Linked DNA regions of Homo sapiens: all the other regions are linked to region 2. Evidence: fine-mapped expression QTL. A gene starts in region 2. Each other region holds a variant in brackets. All regions are shown on one strand. Distances are between the middles of the regions.

Region 1 (2,759 bases), 450 kb after region 2:
GTCTCGAACTCCCGACCTCATGATCCACCTGCCTCACCCTCCCAAATTGTTGGGATTACAGGCATGAGCCACTGTGCCCAGCCTTTTGGTTTTTGTTTTGTTTTGTTTTTTTGAGACAGAGTCTTGCTCTGTTGCCCAGGCTGGAGTGCAGTGGCATGATCTCGGCTCACTGCAACCTCCACCTCCCAGGTTCAAGCAGTTGTCCTGTCTCAGCCTCCTGAGTAGCTGGGACTACAGGCGCCCGCCACCACATCCGGCTAATTTTTGTATTTTTAGTACAGATGGGGGTTTCACCGTATCAGTCAAGCTGGTCTTGAACTCCTGACCTCATGTGATCCACCCGCCTTGGCCTCCCAAAGCGTTGGGATTACAGGCGTAAGCCACTGTGCCCGGCTGCCCAGCTAATTTTCGTACTTTTTGTAGAGACAGCATTTCGCCGTGTTGCCCAGGCTGGTCTCAAACTCGTGACCTCAGATGATCCACCCACTTCGGCCTCTCAAAGTGCTAGGATTACAGGTGTGAGCCATCGCGCCCAACCAAAACCAGGTTTCTGAACTGAGACCCAAAGGGCCCAGGAGTACTTCCCCAAAACAGTGCCCTTTAACAGGACCCTCAAAGAGTTTACAGGGCCTCTGAGGAGGCCAACAGATCAGGAGAAGGGAAAGGGAATATGGATTATGCTTGGGAATAATCATCAGAGACATCTTCCGGAATCAGAAACCATTTCTCTGCTGCAAGCCAGCTTATGCGCCTAAGGTTGGCAATGCCCCTGCCTACAAGGGAGGTGCCAGACATGGCCCCTGGCTTAAAGGAGGGCTCGTCTCGGGGTGCCGAAATGTCAGGGTTCTGACATTCTGTTCCAGGACAGAATGAGGTCCAGCTTTTTGTTCTCACAGTCCAATAATGAGATCCAGACTGGGAAAGAAGGGAGTTTATTGGCCAGGTGCGGTGGCTCACTTCTGTAATCCCAGCACTTTGGGAGGCCAAGGCAGGCGGATCACCTGAGGTCAGGAGTTTGAGACCAGCTTGGCCAACATTATGAAACCCCATCTCTACTAAAAATACAAACATTAGTCGCCGGGTGCGGTGGCTTCTGCCTGTAATCCCAGCACTTTGGGAGGCAGAGGCGGGTGCATCATGAGGTCAA[T/G]AGATCGAGACCATCCTGGCCAACATGGTGAGAACCCATCTTTACTAAAAATGCAAAAATTAGCTGGGCATTGTGGTGCGTGCCTGTAGGCCTAGCTACTCGGGAGGCTGAGGCAGGAGAATCGCTTGAACCCGGGAGGCGGAGGTTGTGGTGAGCTGAGATTGCGCCCCTGCACTCCAGCCCAGCCTGGTGACAGAGTGAGATTCCTCAAAAAGAAAAAAAAGAAAAAATTAGCTGGATGTGGTGGCAGGCGCCTGTAATCCCAGCTACCCAGGAAGCGGAGGCAGGAGAATGGCTGCACTTCAGCCATTCTCACCACTGCACTTCAGCCTGGGCAACAGAGCAAGACTCTGTCTCAGGAAAAAAAAAAAAAAAAAAGAAGGGAGTTTATTTCTGCAACTGGTTACAGGGAGAAGGTTGGAGTAACTCAGCAGACCAACTAAAAAAGTTAAAAGTTTTGGCCAGGCGCGGTGACTCACGCCTATAATCCCAGCACATTTTGGGGTGCCGAAATGTCAGGGTGTTCTAGGACAGAATGAGGTCCAGCTTCTTGTTCTCACAGTCCAATAATGAGATCCAGACTGGGAAAGAAGGGAGTTTATTGGCCAGGTGCGGTGGCTCACTTCTGTAATCCCAGCACTTTGGGAGGCCAAGGTGGGCAGATCACCTGAGGTCAGAAGTTTGAGACCACCCTGGCCAACATGGTGAAACTCCAACTCTATTAAAAATACAAAAATTAGCTGGTAATGATGGTGGGCACCTGTAATCCCAACTACTTGGGAGCCTGAGGTCTGAGAATCGTTTGAACCCAGGAGGTGGAGATTGCAGTGAGCTGAGATCGTGCCACTACACTGCAGCCTGGGCAACAAAGCAAGACTCTGTCTCCAAAAAAAAAAAAAAAAAAGTTACAAGTTGTTTTTTTTTTTCCAAAGCTTCTATACATTCAAGGTCCATGCCTATAAGCGGGAGTGCACCTACAAGGTGGAGTGTTTCATTCAATCTATATCTAATCTTTAACTAGGATCTAGGGTCTGGAAAGCTTTCTCTAGAGTCTTGGAAAGTTTCTTAAGTGGTCCTTGGTACAAGGTGTATGTGTAAAAATGCTATTATTATTTGATCAGACTTTAGGGCCTGAGAAAGGCCAGGTGGTGTCTTAATGGGTTTGTTTTTGCATTCCAGCCCTTGTAGTACTCAGGCACCAGTTTCTCCAATTCTTTTTATTTTTTATTTTTGAGATGGAGTCTTGCTCTGTCGCCCAGGCTGGAGTGCAGTGGTGCAATCTCAGCTCACTGCAAGCTCCACCTCCCGGGTTCACGCCATTCTCCCGCCTCAGTCTCCCGAGTAGCTGGGACTACAGGCGCCCGCCACCATGCCCGGCTAATTTTTTGTATTTTTAGTAAAGATGGGGTTTCACTATTCACAGGATGGTCTCAATCTCCTGACCTTGTGATCCGCCCGCCTCGGCCTCCCAAAGTGCTGGGATTACAGGCATGAGCCACCATGCCCGGCCCAGTTTCTCCAATTCTTTAATGTTTAACATATGCATTCATCAAAATTATAGTAAAGGGTTAGTGGAACCAGATTGTTCTGGCTGCTGATGGAAACCTGGACT
Region 2 (2,759 bases):
TCTTCTGTACTGCTCCTTGAGAGCAAGGGCCACTTCTCATTACTCTGAATCCCAAGTACAGCATTGCATTTTTTTTTTTTTTTTTTTTGAGACGGAGTTTCACTCTTGTTGCCCAGGTTGGAGTGCAATGGCGCGATCTCGGCTCACCGCAACCTCCGCCTCCTGGGTTCGAGCGATTCTTCTGCCTCAGCCTCCCCAGTAGCTGGGATTACAGGCATGCGCCACCACGCCCGGCTAATTTTGTATTTTTAGTAGAGACGGGGTTTCTCCATGTTGGTCAGGCTGGTCTCGAACTCCCGACCTCAGGTGATTCGCCAGCCTCGGCCTCCCAAAGTGCTGGGATTACAGGTGTGAGCCACCACGCCAGGCCTAGCACTGCATTCTATAAATAATTCTTTTAAGTAAAATTCTCATAATATTAACCATCAACCATTTAAAAATGTACAACTGAGGCCATTTTCGTAAAAATAGCTCCATGTAGGTCAAAGACCACAAATAATTCTTACTGAAAGAATTTTTCAGTCTCAGATTAATCTTTCTAAATTATATCTTGTTCATGACCCAAGTAGTTAAAAAAAATTGTTGCTACCCACCACCTATAAGCCTAAATGCCTGATATTCAAGAACTTATTTCTAGATTATTAGTGATTCTCTACATGTGCACTCTAGGTCGGTTAAGTATAATTAGTTGTTTGCAATAAATACAGGAAAAATTAAATTCAAATTACGAATTTGATATGCCCTCTTTGTCTCACAAACCTTCAATTCTTGCAATCTTTACACATCTGGCAGGAAACTGTAGAAAGCAGATCCCATTTATAGGAAAGATGAATATCGCTGATACCCTTTCAATAGTCCCACGGCGACAACTTAGGCGGCAAGAATGAAGTGTGGGATGTGGGAACGAAGACTTCACAGTGTGTGGTCCCGTCCTCTCACCACCGTAATGAGAAATGACACCTCAGTTTGGAGCCTTCTAACTCGATTAGCTTTGGTAGGTGGAACGCAAGTCCTACAAACCTTAGACTGTTCCTTCCAGAGAGAACCACTAACCATGAACCTTCTGCACCAGGGTTTCTCAAAGTGCGGGCCACAGACCACCTGCTGCCGAATCACACGATGCTGGGTGAAAACGCGGATGGCCTGGGCCCCACCCTGGAATCTCAGAGTCCGAATACTTAACTACGGGTGTGGCTCTGAAGTCTGCGCTTTCCACCAGTACGCCAGGTGGCTCCGTCTTTGGCGCGCAAGTTTGAGAGCCGTGGGGCCCCGCCCTCCGCCAAGGTGGGCGTGGGTGGCGTAGCAGAGCCCCAAGCTCAGGCCGCCTGCGCAGGCTAGGGCCGGAGGCACGCAACCCTGAGGCAGCGAGTCGCCAAGTCTCGTATGCGCCCCGCAACGCGGGAACTAGGCGATCGCTCCACGCTCCTCCCCTCCTTTCCCCTCCCACAGCGTCCTGCGCGCATGCGCTTCGCAGCTTCTCTCGCCGCCGCGCCCCCAGCTGCTCTGGTTACGGTTGGTGTTTGCGAATTCTCTGCGGCACCTTCTTCGCTGAACTCCACCGTCAGTTCCATAGGCGCGCGCCCGCGTCACGTGGGCCGAGGTTCCGGCGCGGCTGCTGGCCGGCGGCTGAGCCGGGAGAAAGGAGCTGCGGCCACCGTTCGCCCTACTTCTGCGCCTCGGGGCGGGCGCGCCGGTAAAAATGGCGAAATGGGGGTAGGCGGCGCTGGACCTGAAGAGATGGGGCGCGCAGGTGGGGCGGTTGTCAGAGCCCCCTGACGTGGGCGCCGGGCTTTTATCGGCGATTTGATCTGGCGACCTCGGGCCGGCGCCTAAGAGGTCAGACTGCGGAGCCTGCGGGTCGCCAGCGGCCCCGCCGAGAGCCGGAGGCAATGGATGAACAGAGCGTGGAGGTGAGGGGGTTGTGAGGGTGGTGGTTAGTCCCCGCCCCCACCCGATGAGCGGTTTTTATTCGGGGAGTCGTGCCCATGTCCTCCCTCCAGTAGGGCACCCCTACCCCGCCCCTGCCGCTGTGGAGAGGGCTGGCCCGGTACCAAGGATGCCGTGCCCATTCTGCAGCGCTCCGGGTGTCTTGTGCTCACTGTTCCGCAGTCAGGTGGTGCGTATCCTGGAGTTTTCAAGGATGTCTTGGCACAGGTACTCATCCCCACCGGGTGTTTGCAAACAGCATCCTTTTCCGACCAAAACTGCAGATTCATCAGATGGATGTACCCTGCCACTCGCCACCAGTCCTTGCGAGTTCTTGAGCTGATCTAAATCTCCTTCCAAATGGATAGTCATCTTTCCCTCTCAGTGGCACATTTTGCAGGCTTCTGCCCTTCCTTCCTAGATTGAATCAGCATATATTATCTCATGTGTAGTTTCCAGAACAAACTCTTCTTTTTATAACTGATTCTTGTAAGCTGTGAGTTAAAATAGTTGGGATATGTAGGATATGTAAGTAAAGGCTAGGAATATATTTTAAAAGATTGTTTATTGAACATAATTGTGTAATCATTATCAAATTTTGAACCTTTCAGATACTGAAATAGGAAATCCTTGCTTTTTAGTAAGGGGTAACTATGTTATGGATATTCCACTTGAAACTAGTCATTCAGTAGTCTTATTGTCCACCCCGTTGCAGGTTACAGAATCTGCATCTCCCAGGTTCTTTCTGGCCCTACAGAGTCATGATGAGATTAATGAGTAATTTTCTCCTTAATTCCTCATATAAAGTATTATAAAGGTTTTGTAAACTTATC
Region 3 (2,759 bases), 35 kb after region 2:
GCAAACAGTTCAAATAACTTTAGATCATTTTATATAAATTGTTCAAAAAACCGTAATGCCTTGGGCAATGCCTGACACATAATAATATGAATGACAAAATATGCAGCTGTTTGTTGTTTTCTGCTGTTACCACTTACCATTATGTCATTGGTTGATGCAGTAGCTCAAACATGATATCATTATTCTTGGTAACCCAAGACTATAAACTTTGATATATATCATATGATATATGATACTTTTTTTTTTTTTTGAGACAGAGTCTTGCCTTGTCGCCCACGCTGGAGTGCAGTGGCGTGATCTTGGCTCACTGTAACCTCCGCCTCCTGGGTTCAAGCAATTCTTGTGCCTCAGCCTCCTGAGTAGCTGGGACTACAGGCACGTGCCACCACGCCCAGCTAATTGTTATATTTTTAGTAGAGATGGGGTTTCACCATGTTGGCCAGGCCTTGAACTAGCCAGGTCATGAGGTCTTGAACTCCTCACCCTAAGTGATCCACCCGCCTCAGCCTCCCAAAGTCCTGGGATTACAGGTGTGAGCTATTGTGCCCAGCCATATGATATGTTATTTTTGGTGAGCCTTAAGCAACTGTTATTTAAAAGATATAAACTCACCTGTAGGTGGGTTTATGAATATCATTCATATGGCATTTGATAGTATATTAGCTTGCTAGGCCTGTCATAACAAAATACCAATGACTGTGAGACTTAAACAATAGAAATTTGTTTTCTCAGTATTCTAGGGGCTGGAAGTCTAAGATTCAGGTGTTGGCAGGTTTCGTTTCTTCTGAGGTCTCTCTCCTTGGCCTGTAGATGACTGCCTTCTTACTGTGTCCTCACATGGACTTTTCTGTGTGGTTGTGCAGCCCTAGAGTCTCTTCCTCTTAATAAGGACACCAGTCATGTTAGATTAAGGCCCTACCCCAGTGGCCTCATTTTAACATAATCACCTCTTTAAAGATTATCTCCAGATAGACTGAGGTACTGGAGGTTGAGCCTGCAGTATATAAATTATGGAGGAAAGGGGCACAAAATTCAGCACATAACAGATAGTTTACAAAGCTTTTTCACTATAGCTTCATAATCCTTATAACAAACTTCACGAAGTAAGCAGTGGTGGATATTACTATTTTAGTTTTGTATGTAAACAGACTCAGAGTTATGTAATTAGTCAGTGGCAGAATTGGGAGTTACTTCAAACTGGTTTTTTTGAAGAAAAAATTAGTAGTCTTATCTTTTATCTACCATGGTTATGTTACTGAAGTTAGATTTGTTACTTTTTCCCAAAATAGTGTTTCCCAAATTAGTATCAGATAGTGCGTGTGTGTGTGTGTACACACGGGTGTATGTGTGTACGTTTTGTATTCTGT[C/T]ACCTAGAATACAATCTGAGAAATTGCTTTTAAAAGCTTTCACCTTGGTCGGGCACGGTGGCTCACGCATGTAATCCCAGCACTTGGGGAGGCCGAGGCAGGTGGATCATGAGGTCAGGAGTTCAAGACCAGTGTGACCAACATGGAGAAACCCTGTCTCTACTAAAAAATACAAAAATTACCTGGGTATGGTGGCACCCACCTGTAATCCCAGCTATTCAGGAGGCTGAGGCAGGAGAATCGCTTGAACCCAGGAGGCGGAGGTTGCAGTGAGCCGAGATCGCGCCATTGCACTCCAGCCTGGGCAACAGAGCAAGACTCTGTCTCAAAAAAAAAAAAAAAAAAAAGCTTTCAACTTACCGGTTTGTTCATTAATACATTCATAAGAACTTCACTGTACCAGCCTGAAAGTATATTTGTACTTGCTTAAAACCTCATTTATCCTAAAATGTAAGGAGAGAAAAATGCATTAGTATTAAGTATACTTATTCATTGACTTTACTGTTAGAATATTATAGAAATAAACCTAGATTCTTTGTACATTCTTAATTCTCAAGCTCACTTTGAGTTATTTTTATCATTTTTTTCAGTTTATAATCAGAATAATTTGTAATTTCTTAAGAATTTTGAGGTGGCAGTGAATAGTAATTTTGTTTGTTCAGATAATTTTTTTCCTCACACAGTTGCGGTCTTGTAGTAAGAGTGAGTTGATATCTAAGAGCTCAGAGATCCTTATGATGTTTCAGCAAGTTCATCGGAAGCCCATGGCATCTTTTGTTACCACTCCTGTTCCACCAGACTTTACCAGGTATGACACAGTTTTTAATTTCATTTTCATTTGAAATTTATGTGGAAATGCATATACTTGTTTCAAAAGAATGTTTTTTTTTTTAATGCCATCTCTCTCTCTCTTTTCTTTTATAGATAGGGTCTCACTTGTTGCCCAGGCTGGTCTCAAACTCCTGGACTCAAGTGATTTTCCCACCTTGACCCCCCAAATTACTAGGGATCATAGACATGAGCCACCACACTTGGCCACTCCATAGCTTTTTAAGGTCTTGTTTATAATGGAGTGGTCTGGCAAGCTCTGTTGTATACATACAAATCTAGTTCTCCTGAAAAGTCTCACAGACTGATACTTTTGACTCTTAAGAGAAAATGACAATGAACTAGAAATCATTTTTTTTTCCAAGAGCTCCATCTTCCGTAGTATAGAAAAAAATAATTGATTACATTAGCTTCATCAGTGTACCTTTTGAATTGAACTATATCTCCTAACACAAAACTCAGAAACTGATGAAATGCCAAAAGAATTTGAAGGTGACGCCATGTTATCTCCGGATACTAAAAGATAGAGAGAGGAAATAATTATGGCAAAAAGTATCCTAGTTT

Direction of the effects. Positions count from the first base shown, and alleles are read on the strand shown. Sizes are in standard deviations (SD) of each study's normalised expression.
For the expression in lymphoblastoid cells of the gene that starts at base 1,471 in region 2, G is the high allele of the variant in region 1 and T is the other (small effect, 0.37 SD a copy in GEUVADIS).
For the expression in Th17 cells of the gene that starts at base 1,471 in region 2, allele C in region 3 goes with a lower level than allele T (large effect, 0.94 SD a copy in Schmiedel 2018).

The links. PIP is the estimated chance that this variant, and not a neighbour inherited with it, causes the effect.
Region 1: its variant is the best candidate, but not a certain one, in a credible set for the expression of TRIM37 in lymphoblastoid cells (GEUVADIS, PIP 0.59).
Region 3: its variant is the best candidate, but not a certain one, in a credible set for the expression of TRIM37 in Th17 cells (Schmiedel 2018, PIP 0.51).

The regions. Positions count from the first base shown.
Region 1 is chr17:58,653,798-58,656,556 of GRCh38, reverse strand. All of the region lies in intron 1 of TEX14 (testis expressed 14, intercellular bridge forming factor), which reads left to right. Among named protein-coding and RNA genes, the nearest start is that of IGBP1C, 37 kb to the left of the region's middle. The variant T/G (reference allele first, on the strand shown) is at 1,148.
Region 2 is chr17:59,105,592-59,108,350 of GRCh38, reverse strand. TRIM37 (tripartite motif containing 37) reads left to right here and starts at 1,471. Exons shown (of 24, transcript NM_015294.6): 1 at 1,471-1,910. The coding sequence starts at 1,890. LOC124904039 (a long non-coding RNA gene) reads right to left here and starts at 1,255. Exons shown (of 2, transcript XR_007065864.1): 1 at 760-1,255. RefSeq lists enhancers at 948-1,027, 1,068-1,117, 1,488-1,587, 1,064-1,723, 1,678-1,807 and 2 more and a silencer at 1,248-1,357.
Region 3 is chr17:59,070,239-59,072,997 of GRCh38, reverse strand. TRIM37 (tripartite motif containing 37) reads left to right here. Exons shown (of 24, transcript NM_015294.6): 9 at 2,051-2,175. Among named protein-coding and RNA genes, the nearest start is that of TRIM37, 35 kb to the left of the region's middle. The variant C/T (reference allele first, on the strand shown) is at 1,368.